Regions from separate parts of the Homo sapiens genome. Here region 2 is linked to region 1. The links come from fine-mapping of genetic effects on plasma protein levels. A gene starts in region 1. The other region holds a variant in brackets. All regions are shown on one strand. Distances are from middle to middle. Region 1 holds the start of PI16 (peptidase inhibitor 16). Region 2 overlaps C6orf89 (chromosome 6 open reading frame 89).

Region 1 (12,565 bases):
ACGGAGTCCCCTCCTGGTAGGGCCGTTTCCCCTTCACGTTCCCCCTACAGGAGGTCAGGAGGATGCTGCGGGGAGGGGGTCGACCCCTCCCAACCCTCTCCCCAACTCCTATACACACACCTACTCTGGAAATGCCCTTGGGTCTCCTGACTGCCAGCCACTGACTTGCTGGGCGAACTTGGGCTCCTCCTGGCCCTCTCTGGCAGATGACAGCAGACCCCCATTGGTGCCTTCACAGCTCCCTGGACAGTATTGCTCCAGACTGACCCCTCTCCTCCCACTCCCTCAGGCTGTGGCCGACTCTGCCCTCCCCTTGGCTCTGCCTGTGCCTTCCCCCTCTCCATCTCCAGGGTTCCCCCCGGCACTCACGGAGGCTCATAGTTGCACACCAGTAATTCGATGTTGGTCTCCTCAACACCCTGGAGCTTCTCACAGAAGTGGGAACCACAGCCGATCCTCTCTGTCTTGGCCCATACCACCTGATGAAGGGCAAACCTAGCAGCTCAGCCCCATGCGAGGTGGCATGGTGCCTTCCTGGCATCCCACTACACCTGCCTTACAGGAGTGGAGAGAAGAGGCACCCTATAGCCTGTGACATCCACGTCCCCAAGGCCATGCAGGTTCAGGACAAAACTCTAACCAGGGGGAGGGATGGGGGAGTTTGTCCCTAACAGTCTACTCTCCTCTGCCAACCACACATACCACTTTGCCAGGTCTCTTTTCCTCTCAAAACCTTCCCTCAGCTCCAGGACTGTGATATACCCTCATTAATTTTTTTCTGTGGGCTAGAAAAAAAGGCCTAGAGGCCCTTGCATTTTAAGTGAAGGATATATCCAAACGAAAGAATCTCAAATGGTAGAATTTTAGACCTCAGCAACAAGAAAAGTCCAAGGAGGGGAGCAGGAGGAGCCATTTTGGAAGTGGAACTTCCCCCAAATCACAGGTGAGCAGGACCTGTTCTGGTTGTTTCTCAGTGTGGGTCTCTTAACTGCTAGAAAGACTTCTATCTTTATCAAACAGAAAGTCCAACAACATTTGTGTGCTGCCATGGGGTGAGACCAGCAGCCTTGCCTTGCTGGTTCTAGGTTCAATCTGCCCAGGAATCTCTGCTGAAATCAGCTGAAGGTCTCCCCGTGTTGAGCACCTTCTGGGCAGAAACGACTCCAGAGTGCATGCACCCTCAGCCCCAGAGAAAGCTGGGGTGGAGCTGGGCTGACTCACTCCCTGCTGGGTCCTGATAACAATCCCTGCAGGAGCAAGTGGGTGGGGGTAGAGGGAGGGGGGGGGTGGAGGGAGAGGGAGGGGTGGCAGGATCCAGAGGGAAAGGGCCAGGAAGGGTGCTGGGCCCTCACAACTTTCTGACCTGGGTGGGTGCTGCTGGGATTTCCTCCCTAAAGATGAAGACTAAAAATACCATGAAAAAGAGACACTGAGAAATGGAATTGGTGGATGTGGGTGGGAAGATGGTTGGTTTCTTTTCTTTTGTTTGTCATGTTATTATTTGTACAACACATAAGCACTGGGAGGAGAAAAAATAATTCAGTAACACTAATGTTAATTCCCCTACACACACACACACACACACACACACACACACACACACATCTTATCTGCAAGCCCAAACTTTCAAAATGCAGTGAGAACCCAGACAGGAGCAAAGTGTGACTGGGGAGCAGGAAATTCTATCAGAAATCTCCCTGAAGCCTTTCATTCAGCCACAATTTGTTCTTCATCGTTATGCATAATTGTTAAATGCAAAAGAAAAACTAAGCAAAATTGTCAATTTGCTTTATTAGTCCCTGGCAGATGAGAAGTAGCAAATTAGACACCATAATAAATGCAAAAGAGCCACAGAGAGAAGTTAAGGGACTATCTGCTGCTGGGGCAAACAGCTCTGCACTATCTGGGGGAAGTGAGGCAGGATCACTTGGAGCCCAGTACAGTATGGCCTAGGACAATAACCATGGTCCATAAAATTGGCTCTGTGACACCTAACATGTCCCACCGTCCCCACCCCTTTTTATTTATTTATTTATTTATTTAATTTTTTTTTTTTTTTTTTGAGACAGGGCCTCCCTCTGTCGCCCAGGCTGGAGTGTAGTGGTGTGATCACGACTCACTGCAGCCTCAACCTCCTGGGCTGAAGTGATCCTTCCACCTCCGCCTCCAGAGCAGCTGGCGCGCGCCACCGCGCCCAGCAAAGTTTTTTGTATTTTTTTGTAGGGACAGGGATCTCGCCATGTTGCCCAGGCTGGTCTCCAACTCCTGGCCTTAAGCGATCCTCCCAGCTCGGCCTCCCAAATTGCTGGGATTACAGGGGTGAGCTACGGCGCCTGGCCTAGCAGACTAGGAGCAGCCGACTCCGTCAGAGTCTTAGACAGCGTATTAGCTGCAGTGAGAGGACAAGATTTGCAAAGTGTCTGAGGGGGCTTGGAGTGAAGCCCGCCTACTTGCAGCGAGGACGCTTAGGAGGGGTGAAGGCAGAGGTGGCCCCGCCCAGGGAGCACGTGGCCCCACCCCCACGCCGCGAGGCTCCGCCCCGCCTCGCCCGCCGGGCCCACACCTGCGTGTAGTGGCCGCACATCTGGCCTGGGCTGCAGGTGGCGGCGCTGAGGTTGTAGTGCTCACGCTCGTGGTGCCACTCCTCCATGGCCAGCGGCACGTCCATGCCCTCGTCTGTGATGGCGAACAGATTCTCGCCGCGGCGCCCGCGCTCCTTGTTGTGGCCCCACACGCACTGCCGTGCGTAGGCCTTGGCGAAGGCGGCCAGCTCCTCGTCCCATCTCTGCAGGGCAGGTGAGAGAAGGGAGGTGAGGATGCCCACAGATGCTGTGGGGACCAAGCAAAAGGTCGAGGAGGTCGTGGGGAAATCCTTCCGGCACCTCCTTAGCAGGGTGACTCTTGGGCATGGCCTAGAACAGGTCTCTGCTCTGGGTGGGCGTCTGTGGGGCGGTGAAGGATGCCACCCCAGGCCGTGGAGCTGGACCATTCACCAGCTGTGTGACTGCACGGATTGTCTAAACTTTCCGCACCCTCAGAGGGCTGGGAAGAGTGGATGAGGTGGTGTTGGTGACAGTGTTATTATTAAAAGCCTCATGTGAAAAAGGTGGCCATACATGCCCCTGCCTACCTCCCAGTCCTCCTTGAACTTCTCTGAAGAGCACAAGATCACGGTGTGATCGATGTTGAGGGGCTGGGTTGTTTATTCAGCCCATTTCCCTACCCCTCAACCATGAACCTGACTTGAGGGCCGGCACCTTCCTCTCCCTCTAAGCCCCCACCCTCCCCTTGGGTCACCCAGCCCCCATGCCTTTACCCTCTGCAGGCTCCCGCCCCAGTGCTGTTCCTAACTGCTCCCAACCCTTGTCAACGGCAACCCCCTTTCTCCAAGAAAATTAAGCGTCTCTATGTGACACTGAATGTCACAGGCCTCTCACCAAGGGGCCTACTTTCAGAGCCTTGGTAACCCACTGTCAGACCCCAGTGACAGTGTTCTCCAGTGGGGACCTCAGGTGAGATGGTGAGAGGGGGAATTTTAGGTTCGGGGCCTTTGCGATTGTGTCCCTGGCTGAGAGGACAGGCCGAGTGTGGGTGGGAAGAGGGATTAACAAGGCATCCGACCCAAAGGATTGAGGAGGGGAAACCTGGATCCCATTAAACGCTGTCCTTGGCTTCTCCTGGAAATCCATGGCCTGGCGGCAGCTCTTGCTCCACCCTATGAGGGCCCAGCCAGCTCTGGGAGCCAGACAGCCCATAAAGCGCCAAGAGCTTGGGTGACCCTGAGGGGAGGTGGCTGTGTGGCCACACCTACTCCCCACCCACTCAAGGCTTTCAGGAGCCGCTGCCTGGCATGGGGATGGGTGCACCTGGCTGGGATAGCTCCACAGCTGTGACCTTGGGTGAGTATCTTTCCCTCTCTGGACATTTTTGTCCCAAATCACTGGCCCCTGAGATTCTCTCAACTCTGGCAACAGTGGGAGACTGGGAGTGGGAAAGGGGCAGGGCGCTGGGGGCCAGGGTCAGGGTGTCTGAGATCACCTGCGAGGTGCCGGGCTGGACTGTAAGTGCCATCACGGTAGGGCATGGATGGATCCCCAGTGTCTGGCGCAGTGCTGGCACATAGTAGGTGCTCAACAGATACTTGTCAACTATTGATGACTGAGACAGGGCCCTTCTTAAAGCAGTCTACCCCTACAGAGCCTGGCTGTAATTTCCATTCTGACTAGATATCTGGAGCCCCACCATTAGCATCATTGCTTTGGTCTTAAGGATTCTCAGTCAGTCATCCAGAGCCCCCTGTGGAGTTTGTAAGACTCTCAGCACCCACCCACATTGGCCACATGGTCACCATCTAGAAGCAAGTCCATTCATTCATTCATTCAACAGTCCTGGGCATTGTGTCAGCCCTGGGACAACAGCAGGAACCAAGAAGCCCAAATTTCCATTGACATAAAAGTCATTTGGGCCACCACATGGTAAATGACAGATGTGCCACAAGTACTATAGAGGCACCAAAGAGGGCCATCTAGCCCAGCCAAAGGTGGAGAGGGAGACACCAAGCTAAGTGTTAAAAGATGAGGCATTAGTCAGCTGGAGGGGAGAGGCATCCTAATCAGAAGGTACACATCAGCAAAGGCATGAAGCTGGGAAACATTTTGGCTGGGAAAAGACAAGCTGTTCAGGTGACAGAAGAATAAAGGGCAAGCGGGAGAGGAGGATGGAGAGATAGGCAGGGGCCAGAACACACAGAACCTTCTCAGTCAGGAGCTGGAGCTTTAACCTGAAGCAGTAGGGAGCCATGGGAGCCACTGAAGGATTTTGAGCAGGGTCAGGCCCATGTGTTGGATTATTCATTCTGACAGCAGAGGCCAGAAGCTGGGGAACAGGTAGAGGCTATCCTAGGAGTCCTTGTGTGGAAGAATGAAAGAAACCTGAACCAGGATTGTGCTGAAAAGAGAAGGGGGTAGGGGTAAGGGTTAGATTTCAAGGACAATTGAACCTTCGGGGTGGCAAAACTGGTGCTGATTAGCTCTGGAGGCTGAGAGAGAAGGAAGAGTTCATGATAACCCCCACCTGCCTCACCCTGGATCCATTCCCTCTTTTGTGTTAATCAGACACTTACTGAGCACTTACTGTGTGCCAGGCATTCTTCTGAGTGCTTTACACATATTCACTCACTTAACCCTACAACCACTGTAGCTACAAGGGAATTATCCCACTGTTATCATCCCCATTTTACAGATGAGGAGACTGAGGCACAGAGAGTTTAATTTGGCCAAGGTCACAAAGCTAATAAGTAACAAAGCTAAGATTTGAACCCAGGCCATTTGGCTGCAGAGTCCCTGCCCTCACCACTGCTGAGGTTGAACCTGAGTCTTGTCCTGAATGTTTCCTGGCATCCCAGCCCCAGCCTCATCTCCTCCTCCTCATGTCACTCCCCATTAGGCAGCAGCATATCCCCTCAGTATCCCAACTGCCTCCCAGAATGTTGCCCCACTCCAAGGCGCACCTCTGTCTGAGAAGCAGCTCCCAGCCTGTGTGGCCCCCAGTCTCAGCCAGCAAGACTGTAGGGCATCAGGGATCTACAGGTGGGGAAACTGAAGTCCAACAATGAGTCACAGGCCTCAATCAGGGAGCTGTTGGCAGAGCTGCATCTGTGACGCCTGGTTTGTTGTCCACCTTTCCTCGATGTGCAGGCTGGCACAGCTGTGAACGGCAGTGCTGGGTGTGTGCAGAGCTCTTCCTAGATCTTTCTTACGTGTCATCCTGTCTGACGCCCAGGGCAGGGATCGCCAGCCCCATGTTTCCATCTGGAAACAGAGGCCTTTGAAGGGAAAGGGGTCCACCCAGAGTTACTTCAGCCAGATCACATTAGGCTGAGGTTAGAACTTAGGTTTGGGGCCCCAGGCTCACTGTTATGTTCCCCAAGGTGCATCTGTTCTCTCAGGCACCAGCTCCAGGGGTCCCTGAACACTGCCCAGCAACCTCCCCAGTCACCTGAGGGTGGCTGGAGGGGACAAGCTAGTTCAGCCCTCAGGGAGGGCAGGAAGTGGGTGAATTTCTCACTTTATCTCCTTTAATTCTGCATATAGACAGCCCGCCTCTCACCCTACCATAAATAGCTCTTCCTGACAGAAGTAACCAACCCTAAATCTGGCTTCTGTCTCCTGTGTGCATGTACATGTAATGTTTACTACATCTGCGTGTTTCACCAGGACATAAATAGTATTTTTACATGTTTTCAGACTTCATGTAAAGAGATCCTACTGTGTATTTTTTAGAGATTTTATTTCCTCCCCCATTCAGTATGATATCTGTGAGATTCAATCCACACTGGTATATACGTAGCTCTAATTCTGACCGCCTTTTACAGATGAGACACGGGATCGGCAAGGTTACAGGACTTGCCTCGAATCATAGGTCTTGTAGGTGACCGAGACAGAATTTGGACTGTGTGATCCAGAGCCCTCTCTGCTTCTGGATCCTGCTGTCACCCACCTCCTTAGCACCTGCCTCCTACTCCACGTGCCCACGCCCATCCTGCTGCCCTGCTTCCTCTTGTCCTCTCCTTGGCAGGCATGTGAAAGACCGTTTTCACAAAGGTGTTAAGAACTTCCCGGGTTCCCCCACTGAGGGCACATGCATTTGAGGAAGTGCTGGGGAAAGCTCATTGGAGTGGGAAGCCAGGGCTTTGGGTCTGGCTCTACCAGCTGTGTGACCCCAACAAATCCCTCTGAGCCTCACTTTCCTTATCTGTATTATGAGGCTGCTTATAGGGGCCTGTGAATTTTATTAGGCGGGTGCAAAAGTAATTGTGGTTTTTGCCATTTAAAGTAATGTAATACCATGTCAGGGACTCGGGGACTCTGTCACTGACCAGAAAAAGGAGAGGAATTCTGAAATAGCTTCAGCATGAGGAGCAGGGTAAGAGAGCCTGGTGACAGACCCTGGCCAGCACCCCTTCCATCCCAGCCAGCAAGGGCCGTGGCCACACTTACCATGTGCAGCATGTCTGAGGCCGTCGGGGATACCTGGGCCCGGTAGAGGTTGTGCAGCTCCACCATCAAACGTTTCTCCTCATCTGTGAGGGCTCCAACGGGGCCTGTGGTGGCCACCAGCAGTAGCAGTAGCGGCAGCAGAAGCATCAGGAAACTGCAGGAGCCGTGCATGGTGGCCAGCCGTCTCTCCTTCTCCCGTCCAGGGGTCTGGCAGCTGGATTTAAAGTCCTTCCCACACAAGCACCACCCTGGCTGGGGTGGGGCAGTGGGGGCCGTGTTTGAGGCCCAGCCCGACTCACACAATGTCTCAGGGAGGGCTGGGCGCTTTGGGTCCCGACCAGCATCAAGTGCACTCCCCTTGGAGTCCTTGGCAAAAACCTCCTTTCTCTTGGTAACGGGGGCTCAGGCCAAAAGCTGTGTGAGTTCCTAAGTTGTGGACAGATCCTTCAGGGGCAAAATCACAGTAACCTCTGCAGAGCTGTGACTGGTTGCACCCAGGTCACACCCACTGTGTGTTGAAGATAGATAAGAGAAAGGAAACCACAGACCCTACCCACAGAGGAGTGGGCAAGATGAGGAAGCTATAGGCTTTTGAAAGGACAGAGGAAGACCAGATGTATTTGATAAAAGGCTGAGCCAACCTAAATCAGAATCCTGGTTCTGCCCCTTGCTATCTGTGTTTTGGCAGCTTTCTCAAGTGAATCAGTGACAATAATAGTACCTATCTCACAGGACTAGAGGGAAGATTCAATGACATATAATGTATGTAAAGCACCTAGTATGGTGTCTGGCACATAGTAGGCCCTCAGTAACAGTAGACAACCCACTCATGTGGCCTGGGCCTTAGCAGGCTACCAGCCCCCTGTGGAGGCAACATTCTTGCCTGCGGGGGGAGAGGCCAAGGTCTTCCCCACTCTAGCTGTATTCAGGAATAAGGCCTTTCACTATGGCAAAATTTTGGCTTCCAGGTATCCTCTCTGAATGCATGTGCTTGACATGCTCATTTGGAAGTGGGATGCTGGGACCCCTGTGCTCTAACTATGTAGAAATATAATGTGTCTGTTTCTTAAATCAAGAGAGAGCAGAAAAGCAGAAGGTTGAATGAGCTGATGCACCAGGAGCTCTGAGGGGAAGGTATTGGAAGGGAAATAGCCTTAGCAGTCAGGTGCTGGCATTATAATGACCTTGACCTTGCAGGGGCCATGACCGGTTCATGAAGCAGGAAGCTGGAACCAGTACTCTTGAGGACAGCTGGGATCCTTGAAGCCTGCTTCTTCAATGAATAGGGACCTAGAAAAAGTCTACCCACAGGCTTTGGAAGATGACAAGAAAACCTGTCCCTGCCTGAGTCTCCAAGTAAAAATAAAAACAAAACCAAGATGGATTACACACACATACACACACACACACACTTATTAGAATTAATAAAGTCAGCAAAGTTGCAGGATACAAAATTAACACATAGAAATTAGTTGTTTCTATACACTAATAATGAAAAATCCAAAAAGGAAATTAAGAAAACAATTTCATTTATAAAAGCAATGAAAAAGAATAAAAAGAATAAAATTCTTACCAATAAACTTTTTTTTTTTTTTTGAGATGGAGTCTCGCTCTGTCACCCAGGCTGGAGTGCAGTGGCATGATCTTGGCTCACTGCAACCTCTGCCTCCTGGGTTCAAGTGATTCTCCTGCCTCAGCCTCCCAAGTAGCTGGGACTACTTGCCCACCATGCTGCCCACCATAGCTGCTACCATGCCCGGCAAATTTTTGTATTTTTAGTAGAGATGGGGTTTCACCATGTTGGCCAAATGGTCTTGATCTCTTGACCTCGTGATCCGCCCGCCTCGGTCTCCCAAAGTGCTGGGATTACAGGTGTGAGCCACTGCGCCTGGCCCTTAGCAATAAACTTAACCAAGGAAGCAAAAGACTTGTACGCTGAAAATCACAAGTGTTGACAAACAAAGTGAAAGAAGACACAAATAAATGGAAAGTCATCCTATATTCATGGATTAGAAGACTTGATATTGCTAAGGTGTCAATGTTGCCTGAAGCAATCTACAGATTCAATGCAATCCCTATTGAAATGCAAATCATAATATTTTTATAGAAACAGAAAAATCCATCCTAAAATTTATATGGAATCTCAAAGGACCCCAAATAGTCAAAACAATCTTGAAAAAGAACAAAATTGGAAGTCTTACAGTTTCTGATTTTAATATGTAACCACAAATCTACAATAATTAAAATAGTGTGGTATTAGTATAAAGACAGACATTTAGACTAATGGAATAGAATAGCCCAGAAATAAACTCTTACACATATGGTCAAATGATTTTAGACAAGGGTACCAAGACCGTTCAACGAGGGAAAGGCAAGTCTTTTAAAGAAGACTTAGAAAACTGGAATGTCCACATGCGAAATAATGAAGTTGAATCTTTACCGTAAGTATATTAAAAAATTAACTCCAAAATGGATTAAATACCTAAACATAAAAGCTAAAACTACAAAACTCTTAGAAGAAAATATAAGGGGGACTTCTTGGCATTGGATGTGGCAAGGATTTCTTGGATATGACACCAAAAGCATAGGCAACAAAACAAAAATAAATTGGACTTCATTAAAATTAAGAACTTTCGGGGGCAGAGTGTAGTGGCTCATGCCTGTAATCCCAGCACTTTGAGAGGCCAAGGTGGGTGGATCACTTGAGGTCAAGAGTTCGAGACCAGCCTGGCCAACATGGTGAAACCCCGTCTCTACTAAAAATACAAAAATTAGCTGGGTGTGGTGGCAGGCGCCTGTAGTCCCAGCTACTCAGGAGGCTGAGGCAGGAGAATTGCTTGAACCTGGGAGGCAGAGGTTGCAGTGAGTCAAGATCCAGTCACCGCATTCCAGCCTGGGTGACGGAGTCTCAAAAGAAAAAAAAAAAAAAGACACAATTTCCCATGAACTGGGAAAAAATATTTGCAAATCATGTATCTGATAAGGGATTAATATCTAGGATATATATTTTGTGGGTTTTTTGTTGTTGTTTTTGAGACAGGGTCTCGCTCTGTCACCCAGGCTGGAGTGCACTCGCGCAATCTTGGCTACTGCAACCTCCGCCTCCCGGGTTCAAGTGGTTCTCCCACCTCAGCCTCCCAAGTAGGCTGGGACGTCAGACATGCGCCACCATGCCTGGCTAAGTTTTGTATTTTTAGTAGAGACAAGATTTCGCCATGTTGGCCAGGCTGGTCTCAAACTCCTGACCTCAAGTAATCTGCCCGCCTTGGCCTCCTAAAGTGCTGAGATTACAGGCATGAACCACCACACCTGGCCAATATCTAGGATATATTTTTAAAACTCCTACAACTCAACAACAACAACAACAACAAAACAATTTGAAGTCGATTCAGTGGCTCAGCACTTTGTAATCCCAGCAGTTTGGGAGGCTAAGGCGGGCCGATCGCTTGAGACCACAAGTTCAAGATCAGCCTGGGCAACAAGGTGAAACCTCATCTCTACAAAAAATACAAAAATCAGCTGGGCATGGTGGCATGCACCTGTAGTCCCAGCTACTAGGAAGGCTGAGGTGGGAAAATTGCTTGGGCCTGGGAGGTCAAGGCTGCAGAGAGCCGAGATCACACCACTGCACTCCAGACTCCAGCCTGGGCAACAGAGGGAGAGCCTGTCTCAAGAAAAAAAAATTTGATTAAATAGGCAAAGGACTTGAAAATTCATTGTTCATTTATGCAATTATTCATGCAATTATTCATTGTCGAAAAGACATTTCTCCAGAGAAGATATACAAGTGGCCAATTAGCACATGAAAAGATGATCGACATCACTTACCATTAGGGAAATACAGTGAAATACCACTTCACACTCATTAGGATGGCTATTATTAAGAAACAAAACAAAACAGAAAATAGCAAGTGTTGACAAGGATATGGAGAAATTGAAACCCTTGTACATTGCTTCTGGGAATGTAAAAGGTGCAGCCACTGTGGAAGACAGTGTGACGGTGCCTCAAAAAATTAAACACAGAATTACCATATGAGCCAGAAATTTCACTTCTGGGTATATACGCGAAAGAGTTAAAAGCAGGGACTTGGCCGGGCACGGTGGCTCAAGCCTGTAATCACAGCATTTTGGGAGGCCGAGGCGGGCGGATCACCTGAGGTCAGGAGTTCGAGACCAGCCTGACCAACATGGAGAAACCCTGTCTTTGCCAAAAGCGCAAAATTAGCCGGGTGTGGTGGCACATGCCTGTAATCCCAGCTACTCAGGAGGCTGAGGCAGGAGAATCGCTTGAACCCAGGAAGTGGAGGTTGCGGTGAGCCGAGATCGTGCCATTGCTCTCCAGCCTGGGCGACAAGAGCGAAACTCCATCTTAAAAAAAAAAAAAGCAGGGACTCAAACAAATATATTTGTACACCGGTGTTGATAGTAGCATTAGTCACAATAGCTAAAAGGTGGAAACAACCCAAATGTTCATCAATGAATGAACTAATAGTGTAGTATACACAAAATGTACGATCACATATACAATGGACTATTATTTTGCCTTAAAAAGGAAGGAAATTCTGACACATATTACAACATGGATGAACTTTGAAGACATTAGGCTAAGTGAACTAAGCCAGACACAAAAGAACAAATCTTACATGATCCCACTTATATGCAGTACCTAGCTAGAGTAGGCAAATTTATAGAGACAGAAAATAGAATGGTGATTGCCGGGGGCTGGAGGAAGGAGAGAATGGGGAGTTAGTGTTTAGTGGTGTAGAGGTTTGGTTTGGGAAGAGGAACAAGTTCTGTTGATGGACGGTGGTGATGGTGACAATGCTGTGAAAGTCCATACTTAATGCCACTGAACTGGACACATAAACATGGGTAAGATGGTAAATTTTATGTTCTATATTTTACCACAGTAACAACCACCACCACAAAAACAGGAATTCTTACATTGGCCAGGAGTACGGTGACAAAGGAAAAATCGTGTCTGGAGGGAGCCTTTACAACCCAGGCCACTTGAGCCACCATGAGAAAAAAAAAAAATATCCAACTTTAGCTCACAATCAGAAAGTATCAAATGCATCAGGAACTGAGTCACCATGAGCAACAGACAGACAGCATACATCACAATAGGAGAATTTCTGACCCTGAAACTTGAGATAATAGAACAATCTGAAAAAGACTTCAAATAACTGTATTTACAATGAATATGCAAATAAATGGGTAGCTGAAAAGGGGAGAAGGAAGACTTAGGGGGTAGAGGGGAACAAGATGTGGAAAAGAATCGGAAGAATTCAGGAAAATGGGTTAGTCTGGGGAGAAAGGGACGCTATTTGAGAAAAATCCAAGTGGAGGAAAGAAGACTGACCAGATTAGACTACAGCCCAGACCCCTGGGCAGCTGTCCCAGGGTGTTCAGGTGGCAAAGCTGTGAGATGGATCTCTTTCCTCCATAGACGGGAGAACTCAGTGAGTTCCTGACAACTTAGGCTTGAGATAGAAATAAGGGGACTTAGTGACCGGGCGCGGTGGCTCAAGCCTGTAATCCTAGCACTTTAGGAGGCCAAGGTGGGC
Region 2 (16,723 bases), 26 kb after region 1:
ATATCTCTGTTCGGAATCATTTTGTATCATTTTTTGGTTTAATTCTTAGCATCTTACTTCCCAATATGTAGCTCTTACAATGCACCTTACACTTGCCCCTGTGTCTCAACAAGATTATAAAACCTTAGGGGGCCGGGACCATCTTCCTTTCTGGCCCAAAGTTGGACATCTGGACAAAAGCCCATCACGCACAGCCCTTGATGCTTTGCTCTGCTCTGGACTTGGGATGCCTGGAGACTGGCAGGCACAGAGGGTGTGGGGTGGCTGGGAGCTGAGCAGTATCTTCTGGGCCAGGACAGTTCTCTCCGAGGCCTCCTGAGCATGCAGTTAGGGCTGTACAGCCTCAGTTTTGTCCTCAGCCAAAAAGGGATCTGTGTTAGTGGAAGGAGAATGTGGCTGCCTCCACTCCTGTGAGCTGCCTGAGGGAACCAGATGGCAGGAGGGAAACAGAGCACCTCCAGAGAGCACCTCAGGGCCCAGCCTCTAGAAGGAACTAGGCATGGGTGCAACCAAATGAATGAGCTGTGTCCTCATCCCTCAAACCTAGGCCAAACAGGTGAAGAAAAGCATTGAATGCTGGGAGTTGTCAGCAAAGAGGATAAGGGTTAAGCTTGGGGCTGTGTGGATATCCTCTGGGTGATTTTTACAGAGGGTTCAGGATGGAATGGGGTAAGGAGAGGACTATGAGGGGGTCAGGCAGCAGACGCGGATGGTGTTTCCACACACTGAAGAGAAAACTGGGTGAGTTCTCCTCATTCAGCCACCAGCTATGGGCCTCAGCTTCTTCCCTATTCATAAGGAAGAAGGGGGTGGTCAGAGAATCTTCTGGGTCTAGTCCAGCTCTGCCATTGGTGGCTTGGAGGAGGGCTGTCCACAGAGGAGGGCAGAAGCAAACACTGGGGGATGGAGGCTGATGATAAGAGGGAAAGGGGACAGCAGCCCAGCGTCAAGTATCTGCTCTGTGCTGGGACAGAGCTGGGCACTTCGTCCACACCGTCTCACGTATCTTTACGCTGACCCCTTGAAGATGGCATTTATTTGCTGCATTGATTTAGGGGTGAGGAAACCAAGGAGCAGAGGGATTGGCAGAACCCTCCAAAGTCACTCTCCTGGTATGCCAGAGCTGGGATTTGTAATGAGGCTTCGGGTTCCCAAGTCCCCAGGCCTCCACGTTGGTGGGTGGGCTCCTGAAGAGCAAGTGGCTCTGTGTCTGGGTATGTGCCTGAGTGGCTGAAAAGGAAGGGGTTATCAAGTTGGTTTTTAGATTAGTGCTGTGTTTCTTATATTTGCTAGGTTTTTTTTTTTGTTTTTTTTTGTTTTTTTTTGAGATGGAGTTTCGCTCGTTACCCACGCTGGAGTGCAATGGAGCGATCTCGGCTCTTCACAACCTCCACCTCCCGGGTTCACACAATTCTCCTGCCTCAGCCTCCCGAGTAGCTGGGATTACAGGCATGCTCCACCACACCCGGCTACTTTTGTATTTTTAGTAGAGATGGGGTTTCTCCATGTTAGTCAGGCTGGTCTTGAACTCCCAACCTCAGGTGATCCACCCACCTCAGCCTCCCAAAGTGCTGGGATTACAGGCATGAGCCACCAAGCCCAGCCCATTTGCTAGGTTTTTGCTAACTTGGTTCTCAGTAATTTTCCTTAGTGGGGGTGAAAAATAAGGATTAAAAAAAAAAAAGTGAAGATAGAAAATGGTAGGTGGTTAAGAAAATCTTAGCTCCTGATTAGCACAGAGTGAAGAAAGGGAAAGTCAACTGGAGGTCAGGAAGGGAAGTACAGTTTCAGTTGTTTACCTGTTGAGGAGATACCTCAGTTACAACAGAGTAAAGATGGGGGCGTTTCATGGCAAGTACTAAATGGGTTGCATGAAGCAATGCTTTTAAAATACAGTAAAATGTTAACATTTGTTAAATCTAAGTAGTGGCTACAGATACTTTTGGAATTAATAATGTACTCATATTTTACAGAAGCAAACAAAACGTCTGGCCAGAGGCAGAAGTACAAAACATATAAAAGAAATGACATGGCAGATACACAAACATATGAAAGGAAAACAGTGAAAGGAAGGAACATGCATGTGATTGATGAGAGCCAAGTCCAGAAGAAAATGTAATCCAAGGAACAGGAAAAAAAATTCCCAGTAGTAGTCTCAGCTATAGAAAAATGTAAAAAAAACATGAATTCAAGAAAGTAGGCACTCAAAGCTGAAACAGATGAAATAACAAGGAAAGAAACTGACGGCACTTCTTCAAAACTCATACATGAGAAATAGCAAGAAAATGAACAGATATGGCTAAAAATCAATCTGATATCAAGGAAAGGCCTGAGATAATCATGGTGAATGAAGAGAAAAGAGACATGCATTAAAAAGAGAGATAGCTATGAAAGGTATAAAAAATATCAAGACAATGAAAAAAAGAATAAAAATAGAATTTAAAACAGAAAACCTAACACATGAAAAAGAAAAAGTATTCATCAAGAAAATACAAGACATCTTCCCTAGAATGAAGAATAGAATTGCACCTCTAAAAAGCACACTTTGTTCCAGGAAAAACTGATAAAGAACAAGAAAGAACTATTCAGACATATAGATTTAAAAAGAGAAAGAGAAAGGAAGAAAAGAAAGAAAAAAAAGAAAGAAAAAGCCAAGGGAATATCTCGTTAGAGGGTATCCTCTTAGATGGGACTCTTCGGCTGGCCTCAGTGTTGTCCCTACCAACAGTCAACACCAGATGACAATGGAGAAATATATCCAAATTCTGAGCAAAAGAAGGTGTGATGCAAGAATATTTTATTCAGCCAAGGTGTGCACAACTATAAAGACCACAGAAACATTCCCTAACGCAGAAAATACAGAACTCATGAGCCATTCCTGAGTCATTCCTAACGGTGCAATTCAGCCAATCAAGAGTTTGTTTGTTTGTTTGTTTGTTTATTGAGACGGAATCTCGCTCTGTTGCCCAGGCTGGAGTGCAGTGGTGTGATCTCTGCTCTTTGCAACCTCCGCCTCCTGGGTTCAAGCTATTCTCCTGCCTCAGTCTCCCAAATAGCTGGGATTACAGGCGCCTGCCTCCACGCCCAGCTAATTTTTGTATTTTTTATAGAGATGGGGTTTTGCCATGTTGGCCAGGTTGGTCTCGAACTCCTGAACTTAAATGATCTGCCCGCCCAGACCTCCCAAAGTGCTGGGATTACAGGCATGAGCCACTGTGGCTGGACTTCAATCAAGAGTTTAAAAATAACAACTCAGAAATGAAGAAGCAATGGCAAAAATACTGGTGGTGAGCCACAAAATCAGTTTAAATATAAAATGAAGGCCGGGCGGGGTGGCTCACATCTGTAATCCCAGCACTTTGGGAGGCTGAGGTGGGCAGATCACCTGAGCTCAGGAGTTCAAGACCAGCCTGGCCAACAGGGTGAAACCCCGTCTCTACTAAAAATACAAAAATTAGCCAGGTGCGATGGTGTTTGCCTGTAATCCCAGCTACTCAGGAGACTGAGGCAGGAGAATCGCTCAAACCCGGGAGGCAGAGCTGCAGTGAGCTGAGATTGTGCCATTGCACTCCAGCCTAGGTGACAAAGTGAGATTCTACCTCAAAAAAATAAATAAAAATAAAATAAAATGAAGTCCCAGCTACTTGAGAAACTAAGGCTGGAGGATTCTTTGAGGCTGGTGAGAACAACATAGTGAGACTTTGTTTCAAAAAGAAAGAAAAAAAGACTGTGGTGAGAATTAAGGTTTCAGAGCAGAAGGAAATGCATAGACTTTAAAAACAAAATCAATATAGGAATAAACAAATTGAGGAGAAAGAGCAAGCTATTTCCTTATCTTTAGAGCCTTGGATTATGCCATCTAAAAAGGAAACCTTATTAAGAACAATTCTAGTTTCTTAATGTTTCTCATAATATTAACTTCAGGGAGATCTTTTGGGAACTACTAATTTTTGTGGGGAAGAAACATCTACTTCAGTTTCTTTTTCTCCTGTTAGATTCACATAAAATTAGATTCAGAACTTTTCTTTTTAAAATAGCATTTTAATATAAGCATTTCTATTTAGCATTCTACCTAGAAATACCTTAGACATACCTAGAATGCTGTTCACCTAATGTTAGTAGTTATCTCTGGGTGGTTTTTGGTTTTTTGTTTTTAAGAGACAAGGTCTCGCTCTGTTGCCTGGGCTGGAGTGCAGTGTTGCAATCATGGCTCACTGCAGTCTCAACCTCCTGGGTTCAAGCGATGAGGCTGAGGCTGGGACTACAGGTGTGCGTCACCACACCCAGCTAATTAAATTTTTCTTTTTTTTTTTTTTTTTTTTTGTACAGACAGGGTCTTACTATGTTGCCCAGGTAGGTCTCAAACTCTCGGTCTCTCCCCTTGGCCTCCCAAAGCACTGGGATTACAGCTGTAAGCTACCGCACCTGGCACTGAGTGGAGGTTTCCATAAGATCACCCAAACTGTCTTCAGTTCTTTATAATAAGAATGTATTATTTTAAAAAAAATAATAGAGTCATTATTCTGAAAAAATAAGATTGGTGAAATGTCTGTCTTCAGCATGGTGTCTAGAGGCTTGTCAGTTTGATTTAGTAAGAAAGCCTAAAGGACATGTGTCATGTCACAGGAATGTGCAGTAATAAGATGGAATTCAAACTAAGCAAAAATTCATACTGAATTTCAAAAACATCATGGGCTAGGAATTATAACTTCTAATTAAAACCGCCTGGATGCAATTTGATCTATGGATTCAATGCAATCCCAATCAAAATCAAACACAAGCTATTTTGTGGATATCAATAAACGGATTCTAATGTTTAAATGAAGAAGCAAAAGACTCAGAATATCCAACTTAATACTGAAGAAGAACAAGGTAGAAGACTGACACCACTCTGACTTCAATATTTACTATAAAGCTATAGTGATCGAGACAGCGTCCTATCAGCAAAAGAACAGACAAATATATCAAAAGACCACGAGAGAGAGAGCCTAGAAACAGATCCACATAAAGATACTGATTTTTTTTTTTTGTTTTTTGAGATGGAGTCTCGCCATGTTGCCCAGGCTGGAGTGCAATGGCTCGATCTCAGCTCACTGCAACCTCCACCTCCCAAGTTCAAATGCCTCTCCTGCTGCAGCCTCCCGGGTAGCTGGGATTCCAGGTGCCCGCCACCATGCCCAGCTAATTTTTGTATTTTTAGTAGAGATGGGGTTTCACCATGTTGGCCAGGCTGGTCTCAAACTCCTGACTTCGTGATCTGCCCGCCTTGGCCTCCCAAAGTGCTGGGGTTACAGGTGTGAGCCACCGCACCCAGCCAAAGTGTTGATTTTTGACAGAGGAGCAAAGGCAATATGCTAGAACAACTGGACATTAACATGCAAAAAATGAATCTAGACATAGACCTTATACCTTCCATAAAAATTCGCTCAGAATGAATCTAAATGTGAGTATAAAATGTAAAAGTATAAAACTCTTAGAAGTTAACACAGGAGAAGGCCCTAGATGACCTTGGTTATAGAGGTGACCTTTTAGATACAACACCAAAGGCATCATCCATGAAGAAACCAATGATAAGCTGGACTTTGCTGAAATTAAAAACTTCTGCTCTGGAAAAGACAATGTCAAGAAATGAGAAGACAAGCCACAGAACTCTTAAAACTCAATAGTAAGAAAACAACCAACCAGACTATAATAAAAAAAAAATGAGCAAAAGATCTGGAATCCTCACCAAAAATGATATATAGATGGTAAATAAGAAAACATGTTCAACATCGTATGTCATTAGGGAATTGCAAATTAAAGCAGTAAGGTGTTACAAACCTATTAGAATGGCCCAAATCCAAAACACTGACACATGCTGGTGAGGCTGTGGAGCAACAGGAACTCTCATTGCTGGTAGGACTGTAAAATGGTACAGCCACTATGGAAGACAATTCAATGGTTTCATAAAAAGCTAAACATACTTAGGCCGGGTGCGGTGGCTCACACCTGTAATCCCAGCACTTTGGGAGGCCGAGGCGGGCAGATCATGAGGTCAGGAGAGCGAGACCATCCTGGCTAACACGGTGAAACCCCGTCTCTACTGAAAATACAAAAAATGAGCCGGGCGTGGTGGCGGGTGCCTGTAGTCCCAGCTACTCAGAAGGCTGAGGCAGGAGAATGGTGTGAACCCAGGAGGTGGAGCTTGCAGTGAACTGAGATTGCACCACTGCACTCCAGCCTGGGTGGCAGAGCAAGATTCCATCTCAAAAAAAAAAAAAAAAAAAAAAAAAAAAAAGCTAAACATACTCTTACCATATGATCCAATTATTGTACTCCTTTGTATTTAGTTATATGAACTGAAAACTTCTGTCCACACAAAAACCTGCGCATGAATGGTTTTAGTAGCTTTATTTACAATTGCCAAAACTTGGGAAGCAAACAATATGTCCTTCAGTAGATGGATACATAAATTCTGGTATATCCAGACCATGGACTATTATTTGGCACTAAAAAGAAATGAACTATTGAGCCATGAAAAGATGTTGAGGAAACTTATGTGCCTATTACTAAGTGGAAGAAGCCAGTCTAAAAAGGCTACAGGCTGTATGATTCCAACTATTTGAACATTCTGGAAAAGGCAAAACTATGGAGACAGTAAAAGATCTGTGGTTGCCAGGGGTTAGTGGGGAGAGAGGGATGATCAGATAGAGCATAGAGGATTTTTAGGGCAGTGAAACTACTCTGTATGATACTATAATGGCAGACATATAACACAGGACAACATACATTTGTCCAAACCCATATAGGATGTAAAACACCAACAGTGAAGTGAACCTAATATAAACTATAGACTTCAGGCGATAATGACCTGTCAACGTAGGTTCATTGACTGTAACAAATGCACCACTCTGGTAGGGATGCTGATAGTGGGGGAGGCTGTGCACATGCGGGAACAGGGGATATATGGGAACTCGC[C/T]GTACTTTCCATTCAATTTTGCTGTGAACCTAGAACTGCTCCAAAAATTAACAAACAACAAAAACCCCAGCCTGGACGTTTCCAGGAATTAGGATGGTCCAGTAGAGGAGGGGCACAGGAGATGAGAAGGGGAAGCAAAGGAGATGAGGCTGGAGTGGTGGCCAGGACTTCTCCTGTGGGCAATGGAGAGTCACTGAGGAGCAAGGAAGGGAGGTGACCAGACATCAGGGCAGCTACATGGATGGTGAATTGGGATGGGGAATGTGCGGCGAGAAACCAGTGAGGTAATTACTGGCAGAGTCTAAGAGTGAAGCAAGCTCTTAGACAGAGACAGCAGCAGTGGAGCTCGATATGTGATAAGGAGGCAGGATTGTCCTGAGCTTGGTCCTGGTCAGAAGTAGAGGCTAAGAAAAAGGAGAGGAACCCCTTGCGGCTGCCATAGACTTTTTGGACATGGTGATGTAGAGGTGCTTTGGAGTTGGCAGAGATGACCTCCCATCACGTGGATGCACAGGGCTACTGCTCAAGTGAGAGGTGTGGGCTGAGCATAGACTGGAGGTGATCTGCCCATGGCTGGAGGGTGAAGCATGGAGTTGAGATATCCCAGGGAGAAACTGCAGGCAGAACCATAGGAGAGACCAAAATTTCAGAGACAGGCAGAAGAGGACGATCCTACAAAGGAGACAGAGTAGGAAGAAGAGGTCCAGGAAGGGGTAGTGAGTACCACAGAGGCCAAGGGAGGGAGGGACGGGTTCTCCACAAGTCAGTATCAAATGCTATAGTGGGGTGGAGAAAGAAGGGGACTGAAAACAGGCTATCTCATCATGTTTTAACAGGGAATCAAGCCCTTACCCCCCGCCCCGTTTTTGGGGAGGGCTGAATTCCAGTTTTCAAGCAGGTAAATGAACAGAATTGTGGAAAGGAATAATATATCTTATTCCTGAATAAAATATATTAGGGTTGGAACAAACAAGAATGGACATTTTGTAAAAACAAGTATTTTAAAGTGGACTCCAGACTTCTTGACTTATAGCCCGACTAATCATTTAACAGGATGTGACTTACCATCAATAAGACAACAGCAGAATAAATGACAGCACACCCACGCCACGGAGTATTAACCATCAAGAAGAAGGGACTGGAGCCCTACCAGCTGACCTGAAGAGAACTCTGTGAGGAGTTGAGTAAGAAAAGCAGGACAAAGAAAGGGCCTGTAATATGATCCCATTTTCGGTAAAGCAGTAACAAAACCTTGTTTATGATTAGAGAGCATGGAGGAAATTATGGAAAAATACACGGCAGAGTATGGCTGTGTATATATCACAGTTACCTGACTAGGAAAAGGGGTGGGGTAACATGGGGAAGAGGAAGGGGCAGCAAGTAACAGAGAAAAATTAAACAGGAGGACACTTAACAGCATATAAAAAATGGTCATATTTATGCATTTATATGAAAGTATATATATATATAATGGCTAAAAAATGAACACACACAAAAATGTCTGACTGAAATCCACCGAGTTAACTAAGTGCTGAGAGCAGCCTGTCATCTGGGGGCAGCTGGGGTGAGCCAGCAAGGGGCCTGGAGTCCCGCACACATGCCTGGCCGTCCTGCGAGAACCAAGGACGCCGTGGGTGAGGCATCACTGGGAGGGCATCTGGGCTGTGTGCAGCAAGCTGGTGAGAAAAAAAAAGGCGTCCAGGGGCTCACCTGCATTCTGGGTGAAGTGCACAGACAGGGGAGGGTATTAACAGGGGGACTGAGATTTGAGAATTCATGGGAATAGCAGATGAGAAGCCGCTGTGGGTAACGTCTGGGGTGCGGAGAAAGTGGAGGCTGTGAATGCAAGGACAGTGCTGGGTGCAAATGGTAGAGACCAAAGCCAGGCGGGCACAGAGGAGCCCCACAGGCCGGCCTCATGAGCGAGATATGGCTAGAAGTCTCTCATGTCATGGGAGAAGGGGAAACAAGAGAAAACTGGAAATTAAAGAATGACACCAACAAGAGGAAAGTTCTTATCAACCAACACTTTTAATTGCAAAAAGTAAAAACCTTCATTACAATAAACTTTAATTTACATACATTCTTCACATGGTGGAAGTCTTTACCAGTTTGTAGTATCCTGCACTTGAACACATACTAAAAGCTCAAGCCATTCAGAGCCGCTGTGGCTGTGACAGCTGCCTGCCTCCCTCTGCTCCCTGGGACCATCCAGGGCCACCACACCCTGCTCCCGGAAGGAGAGCTGCAGCTGACCCTGGCACCTGTCCCCGATGATGGCGGGAGCACTGCGCTGAGTCCCTGTCTTGCCTGTGACTCCTCCTTCCCCGACCCTCGGCATTGGTTACTGACCCTTCCCCAGGGTGGAGGTGAAGGAAGGGAAGACTGCAGCCAACATTTTTCTGAGGGTAAAACTGTGGAAAGAAGTATGGAGGGAAGCCTGTCTGGATAAGATGGGGCTTTCTGGGAATGTCATGTGTCTGCTGGCTCCTGTCACCTCCCTGGAAGGGTCCACAGTGCTGGGGGGTTGCAGTGTGAAGAATGGGATGCTACTGTGAGTAAGGGTGGCTGCACAGGTGAGCCCCCTGCCCCAAGGAGCTGCTGTGGGGAGCGATGGTGTCAATGAAGCCTGGCACAGAGAAGATGTCCCAACTCCCCAGTTTCTGTCTGAAACTCAGACCTCGGCTGGGTTCCTTTCTCCACACAGTGCTTGCCGCCATGGCTCATTCTTGGATTGATGGCTGCTGCCTGCCTGACAGACACACTAGGCAGAGGCGGAAGGGTCTCTGGTCCAGCCCTGTCAAATCCTGACAGTTCCAGGCCTCCACTTAGTTATGTAACATTCCTTCCCTCCACTAGTCTGAAAAAGTCTGGACATTTCGCAGTCTCCAGGGAGAGGAATATGACAGATGTATTTGGCACTAATGCTTAAATTATGCAGGGCAGGGAAACCAGAGACACTGAGGGACCTGGACAACAGACAAGCTGGCTGAGGGTTTCTCTTCAAGGCCAGCATTTAGTCACACTGCGTCCACGGTGGGTGGACTTGGATGTGGTGCACGAGAAGGAGAGCACCTGTCCGTCTCCCTGACATGCTTCTGGAAGAGGCTGCTGGGGATGTGGAGACTGGGGGTGGGGAGGACAGGGAAATGCCTGCTGCTGGTGACACAAACACATTCCCGGAGGCTTCCGTGTTTCATTTGCTACAGAGCTGTCTCCACAAGCGCCTTCACTCTCCTAGCTTCCTGACCCTGCCATGCATCGGTTCTGTACACAACATCTGCAGGTCCAAATACAGAGAGAATTTCAGCCTAAAGTACAACTTTAAAGCATATCTCTGACACTCCCTTCCTTCAACAAATTGTAGTGGGTGATGGGTCACCACTGAAAGGTAATGAGTGTGGAACTTGTATACTCAAGAGAGCTTTTCCTTCATTGTCAGGAGAGCTCAAAATCCTAAGAGGCCCTTCTGTTTATAACTGATTCTCGAAAGGTAGACAAAATTGCCTCTCTCTGTGCAAACAGACATGCGCCTTTCTCTCTCTTTCTCCTATAACCTGGCTTTCTCCTTTATGGACAAGGAGATGCAAACATTTGCTTTGGGGTTTGAACATTCACTACGAAAGTGACTGGGTAATAAGCAAACTCATTCCAGGCTGTATTAAAATGACTGAGGCCATCACCTGCAGCTAAGAAATGTGAGTTTTTGTTTTAAAGTAAGTGTACACTGAGTCCTATGCTGGGTTTTGGTAGAAGGGAACAGAAAACCAAGAATTGAAAAACAAGTGATGTAAACTCCAAGGGGACCCACAACTGGAATTGAGCAGAGTCCCTCCTCTGTCACACATCTGGAAGAATGTGGAGACAGGAAAATGGCTGGACACAGTTGTGTTTCAGCTACATTCACTCTTAAAAAGAGTTTTCAAATGGGGAGGGGAAAAGTGAAAGGATTTTTATAAAAGTCATATGGTTAGATTCTTTCCTCCTCCACTTCTGTCCAGCAGAGTTTTAAAAACAAACCCTGCGGAGTTCCTGGCTTGCTGACCCCCATCCCTGGGTTCTCCCACCCCAACGGAGGCACATCTGAGTCAACGACATCCACAGCTGTCTTCTTCGGCACCATGCCGTGATGCCGCAGGAAAATGATGTGCTATGGAACCAGCTACCTACCTGCCAGCGGTTAACTGCTCTAAGCCTCCACTTATTTACTTGCAAAATGGGGATCTAACACCTACTTTACAGGATTGGGTGAAGATTAAAGGAGATCATGTATATCAGGCACTTTGTAAACTGGAATGTACTAGACAAATGCTATTATTCCTTTCTCTCAGAACATGAGCCCCCCCAATCTGCTCTCCTCTCCTCCCCTCCCCTCCCTTCCCTTTCCCTCCCCTCCCCTCTTCTTTTCTCTCTCTCTTTTTTTTTTTCTTTTCTTTCCTTTCCTTTGACAGAGTTTCGCTCTGTCGCCCAGGCTGGAATGAAGTGGCACAATCTTGGCTCACTGCAATCTCCGCCTCCCCGGTTCAAGCAATTTTCCTGCCTCAGCTTCCTGTGTAGCTGGGATTACAGGCGCCCACCATCACGCCTGGGTAATTTTTGTATTTTTAGTAGAGATGGGGTTTCACCCTGTTGGCCAGGCTGGTCTTGAACTCCTGACCTCAAGTGATCTGCCTGCCTCAGCCTCCCAAAGTGCTGCAATTACAGGTGTGAGCCACCATGCCCAGCTTGAACCACTTTTATTTTATTCCTTCTCTTCCCTAAAAAAAATTGAGGATAAGCTCTGCCTTTTTTCATCAACCATAATAAGTATGGTATCCATTCACTACTTGACTGCTGGAGAGCTCAGGACATTTGGACAGAATGCTTCAAACTGGGGCCAAAGTAGCCTGTCTCCTCAGAGAGCTGACTTCTGGGCATACGCATCTCTGTAGTGGGAGGCCACATGAAAGTGAACCTAACTCATGTACAGAGGTCATCGCCATGTCACTTCCTAGTAAATGCTCAATAAACTTGTAAACCACCCCCTCTCTTTAGAGCCCTACAGTTTTGTTCTTATTGTGGTGGTGGAGGTGGGGAGTTGGTTAGGTGGTCTTATCGTCACCCTGCAGCCCCACTTTCTCATCCTGACAACCCTCTTTCCCACACCGGGTCATACAGAGGGACTTTTGATGCTTCCAGCTAGATGGCAGGGGCATCCTGTGGCATCCTGCTGTGCAGGGCCTTGATCATCAGAAAGGGACTGGCTGGCAACCCCTAGCCACTCCTGTCGCTCTGGCCAGTAGTAGATTCTGCTTATCAAAATTAACTTGAGAAGTTGAACTGCTTCTGTGTATGTAGAAAACCCTCTTTGGAGAATTTTCCCCTAATACAAGTTTACATTCAAGTCTGAACTGGGTAGATTTTAAGTAAAATGAGTAGTATATCCATAAAAGTCTCCACTTATCTTCTGCTACAGTCATTTTTTGTTGAAGTACAAAATGGGACTTAGGGGACTTTCCCACGGGATGCCTCAGAATACCAACACATGCAAGGGTTTCTTATGGACATTTAAGATGTGAAGGGCAAGAGTGAAATGGGGAAAGGAATACAGAGTAACTCACAGAAACAAAACAGAGATCTCAGTAATCAAAATAGTTGCTTTGTTCCTAAGAAACCCTCTCTTTTGTTAATGGGTCTGATTTTTAAAAACTCTCAGAGGCCTCTAAAGCACTTGTTTACACATAGCCCTTCCCCATGTACAGCCAGGGTAAGGACACTGCAGAAGGCTGTAAAAGCTTGCACAAAGCCGGCCTCCAGATGATCCCTCTGACTTAAAACCTCTTAAATCATAACTGCTTAACAACATGACTTTCATACGTACACAAGTTTTGTTGTTCCTGTATTCATCCACACAAGGGGTTGATTAAGAAAAAATTCCCTCAGGTACAGTTCATCGGAGTTTCACTGAAGCCCGTGGAGGAGGCTCTGATGTTTCTATCCTGAGCTCTGTGAACTCTGCTTGTCCTTTGCAAGCCCATAGACAAACAGGCCATTCAAGTGCTCAATGGTCCCCACTGCTGTTCATGAGACCCACAGAGAAAGAGGGCCTGAGAGATGAGATGCAGGCTCCTCCAGGAATGAAGAGGGCTTCACAACCATCTTCACTCGTCATTGTCTGCCTCTGATCCATAATTCTGACATAGACACCTACTGCATCCTTTGATTTCTGCAATTCAGAACCAGAGGCCAAAGTGTAGTTTGCTTTTTCTTCATCTTGGCAATGGCATGACCAGTGGCCAGCTATCTAGTGGTGTCAATAAAAGAATAATAAAGAGAGAAAAAAATAAAAGGAACAGGAAAAGAACATCCTTATTTACACCATTTGATTGCTACCTACTAAAAGCACTTAGGAGAAAACAATGCACATAGTGAATCATCCAATCAGAAACACACAGCTTTATATTATTACAAAAAAGAAAAACACCTCACCTTGTCTTTGTTTCGCAGCACAGACAGAAATCATTTTAAGACAGAGGATCACATAGGCAGTTGTACACCCAGCTGACAAACACTTTGGGTCTGGATTTCCTCCCCCAACCACATTACATCAGCTTTGACACATCTGTAAAACATCTTCTCTGCAGAAAGTCAGACCCTAAAGATCAAACCCAGGGAGGCACCCTCTCCCCAGGCCAGCTACTCTAACTCATAACCCTCTGAAGACACTTGGTAAAGGCAACACAGCTGACGAGAGCAGTGCTGCCTCAGCAGTAGTGGGCTCTGGCCCCGCCAAGGCAGGGAGGACTAGGGCCGAGCTTCTGAGAAGCCATCCAGATAGGCAAGGGAGAAGGGGAGGGGGTGCAGTGGGGATAAAAGAACCTGATGAAATGGAAGAAAGCATTACCTTGGGAGTTACCATTTTGAATTATTATATAATCAGACTCTAGCCTGGCATCACGGAGACTCCAAGAGCCACGGACAATGGGAAAGAAGTGTACTTCTTGAATGCAATTCAAAGTTATCTGAACTTTTTTCACTGTTTCTAGATTCCACTTTGCTTGGGAAACTACAAGAACTTCTTTAATCAGCCATGGCCTTCCAAAAAGTAGAGTGATGTGGCAGGCAAGACAGGGACAAGCAGGCCCACCTGGTAAAGGATGGCTCTGACATTAGAACCTGTTGGCTGCCCTCTCCACTGCCAGGGAAGGAAGCTGGCCATGCAGGTGAAGAAAGGCACCAGCCCTGTTTCCTGCCTGAAGGGCAGCATCAAGGTCATAGTGTCCAAAGGCCCGGAAGAGGTCAGTCTCAGATGGGTGCTGGCAGAGTCCTAGCCAAGTGGCCAGGCTGAATCCTTCCTGAGCCACCTGCAGGAAGAGTCAGGAGGGCGAGGCTCTGGCCACTGCCTTGCAGCTCACAGCTGGTTCACACATGCATGCAAAGGGCAGGTAACTAAGTAACCAACCCCCAGAAAGCAGTTTCATCGTTTTTGTTTTTATTTTTCCCCTTTCAACCTGGTTTTCGGCTCTGGAAGCTGTTCCTGTGCACAGTTCTATTTCCTACAGTTCTGAGAAAGCGGTTCCATCGCAGATGACCAAAGGCTGGACCCCTCTGGCTATAACGTAGACCTTCCAGTGGGTGGTGTCGACATAGCCTTGAGGGGAAATAGCAAGAGGAAGGCATGTAAATGTCAGAGGGTGGGCACACCTGTGGGCACGAGCAAGGCAGGTCTGCCAGAGCTGGCCCTCAGGGTGCACTGCAGAGTCAAAGACAAATCTTTTTCTATTTAATTTAGTTTCCTTTTTTTTCTTTTTCTTTCCTTTTTTATTTTTTAAGAGATAGGGGTCTCACTATATTGCCCAGGCTGGTCTTGAACTCCTGGGCTCAAGTGATTCTCCTGCCTCAGCCTCCCAGAGTGCTGAGATTACAGGTGTGGGCCACTACACCTGGCTTAAAGACAAATTGCTCTGAAAGTCTTCTGGCACTTCCTAGCATAAGTATTCCTAGTTATTATCAGTCCTCTTTAAATGCTTTATCACCACCCCTCACCCAGGGAACTGTGAATCACAATTCAGCAGGCTTACAAAGGCAGGATGCTCTAGATGAGGCTGCTGTTGGGCATCAAGTCTCAGCTTTTACAGCAAGAAGACAGAATGGATTCCGAGGGGACACAAGACCTACTAGCCAATTTTCCTGTGTCTATCTATAATGTGGTTTCATTACAGAACATCCAGATTAACCTAAACCTAAACCAGCATTGCCCAAATTGGGTTTGGCAAACAGTAGTGTCCTGTAAGATATTCCAAAGAAAATAGGTTCCATGGCCAAGTAAGCCTGAGAAACACTAGGTTTCCCCAAGGCTTTTCAACATCTTTGATACACTAATAATGTACTATGCATCAACAAGACAGGCATTTCCCAAAGTCGACTGACTCGAGACCCTACTTGCCAAGGGTCTTTTCAAAGGCCTTCTGGTCCCACCTGTGGGGTCATGAGTAATCTGAAGAATCGTTTAGGAAACACTGACCTATCATTTGAGTGGGCTATGAAGGTAAACCTAAAAACTTCAACCTTTCAATAATCCCCAGTGATGCTGAACATCATTGTGCCTATAGTTTACAATACTTTTAAAAATTCTTTTTTTCTTTCTTTTTTTTTTTGAGACGGAGTTTCACTCTTGTTGCCCAAGCTGGAGTGCAATGGCGCAATCTCGGCTCACTGCAACCTCCACCTCCCAGGTTCAAGCAATTCTCCTGCCTCAGCCTCCCGAGTAGCTGGGATTACAGGTGCACACCACCATGCCTGGCTAATTTTTTCTATTTTTAGTAGAGACGGGGTTTCATCATCTCTTGGCCAGGCTGGTCTCGAACTCCTGACCTCAGGTGATCTGCCCGCCTTGACCTCCCCAAGTGCTGGGATTACAGGCGTGAGCCATCGCGCATGGCTTTAAAAATTTTTAATTCAGTGATTTTAGAGACAGGGTCTCGCTTCATTGCCCAGGCTGGAGTGCAGCGGTGCAGTCATAGCTCACTGCAGCCTCAAATTCCTGGGCTCAAGAGATCCTCCCAACTCAGCTTCCTGAGTAGCTGGAACTACAGGCGTGTGCCACCACGCCTGGCTAATTTTGTAATTTTGGGTAGATACAAGGTCCTACCATCTTGCCCAGACTGGTCTTGAACTCCTGGGCTCAAGCAATCCTCCTGCCTTGGCCTCCCAAAGTGCTGGGATTATAGGTGTGAGCTACCCTGCTCAGCCCCTAACAATGCTGTCTTGTACACTTAAAAATTCGTTGAGAGGGTAGATCTCATGTTAAGTGTTTTTACCATAAGAAAATAAAATTTTAAACAAAAAAAATCTCTTGATGGGAAATTTATTCTAGCGTACTATGGGCCCTGCTCATCTTTAAATGAAGAGCACTGAGTAGAATTCAACTTTTACTTGGTGACTTGGTCATGATGGGCAATGACTATCCTGTACAGTGACTGCAGATGTTGTACCTGACCCCCAAAAGGTTTTCTGGTGATCTGGAACCCCTCTCCCCTCCATCTCCACAGGAAAATGTACATTTTGTCAAAAATCATAGAACTTGCATGTCATGGTGCCATTCTTAAGGGTCCCTAAGGTAGAGGAACCGCCATCTGTCCTGTAACACTGAATGATTCTTCTTGGTCAGGGTCTGCTTTCCTGTCCTCATTGTTAACCGTGGCAGTGACAGCCATCATGTCTATTTCTGTCACTGCTTCAGGTGCTCGCTGGCTTCCCCACCCCTCCCTGCCCCCATTCTTCTCCC

Evidence for each region. PIP is the chance, under the fine-mapping model, that this variant and not a neighbour inherited with it causes the effect. The UK Biobank Pharma Proteomics Project read protein levels with antibody pairs (Olink). The fine-mapping took linkage between variants from a reference panel, not from the people measured, so its PIPs are less certain.
Region 2: its variant is fine-mapped to the plasma level of the PI16 protein (UK Biobank, PIP above 0.99).

What each region holds. Positions count from the first base shown.
Region 1 is chr6:36,949,365-36,961,929 of GRCh38, reverse strand. It overlaps PI16 (peptidase inhibitor 16), which reads right to left and starts at 7,192. Exons shown (of 7, transcript NM_153370.3): 1 at 6,999-7,192; 2 at 2,564-2,785; 3 at 370-479; 4 at 1-44. The coding sequence starts at 7,169. RefSeq lists enhancers at 2,288-2,787, 2,788-3,289.
Region 2 is chr6:36,921,211-36,937,933 of GRCh38, reverse strand. It overlaps C6orf89 (chromosome 6 open reading frame 89), which reads right to left. Exons shown (of 9, transcript NM_001286635.2): 9 at 8,970-14,587. The coding sequence ends at 14,493. Among named protein-coding and RNA genes, the nearest start is that of PI16, 25 kb to the left of the region's middle. The variant C/T (reference allele first, on the strand shown) is at 6,958.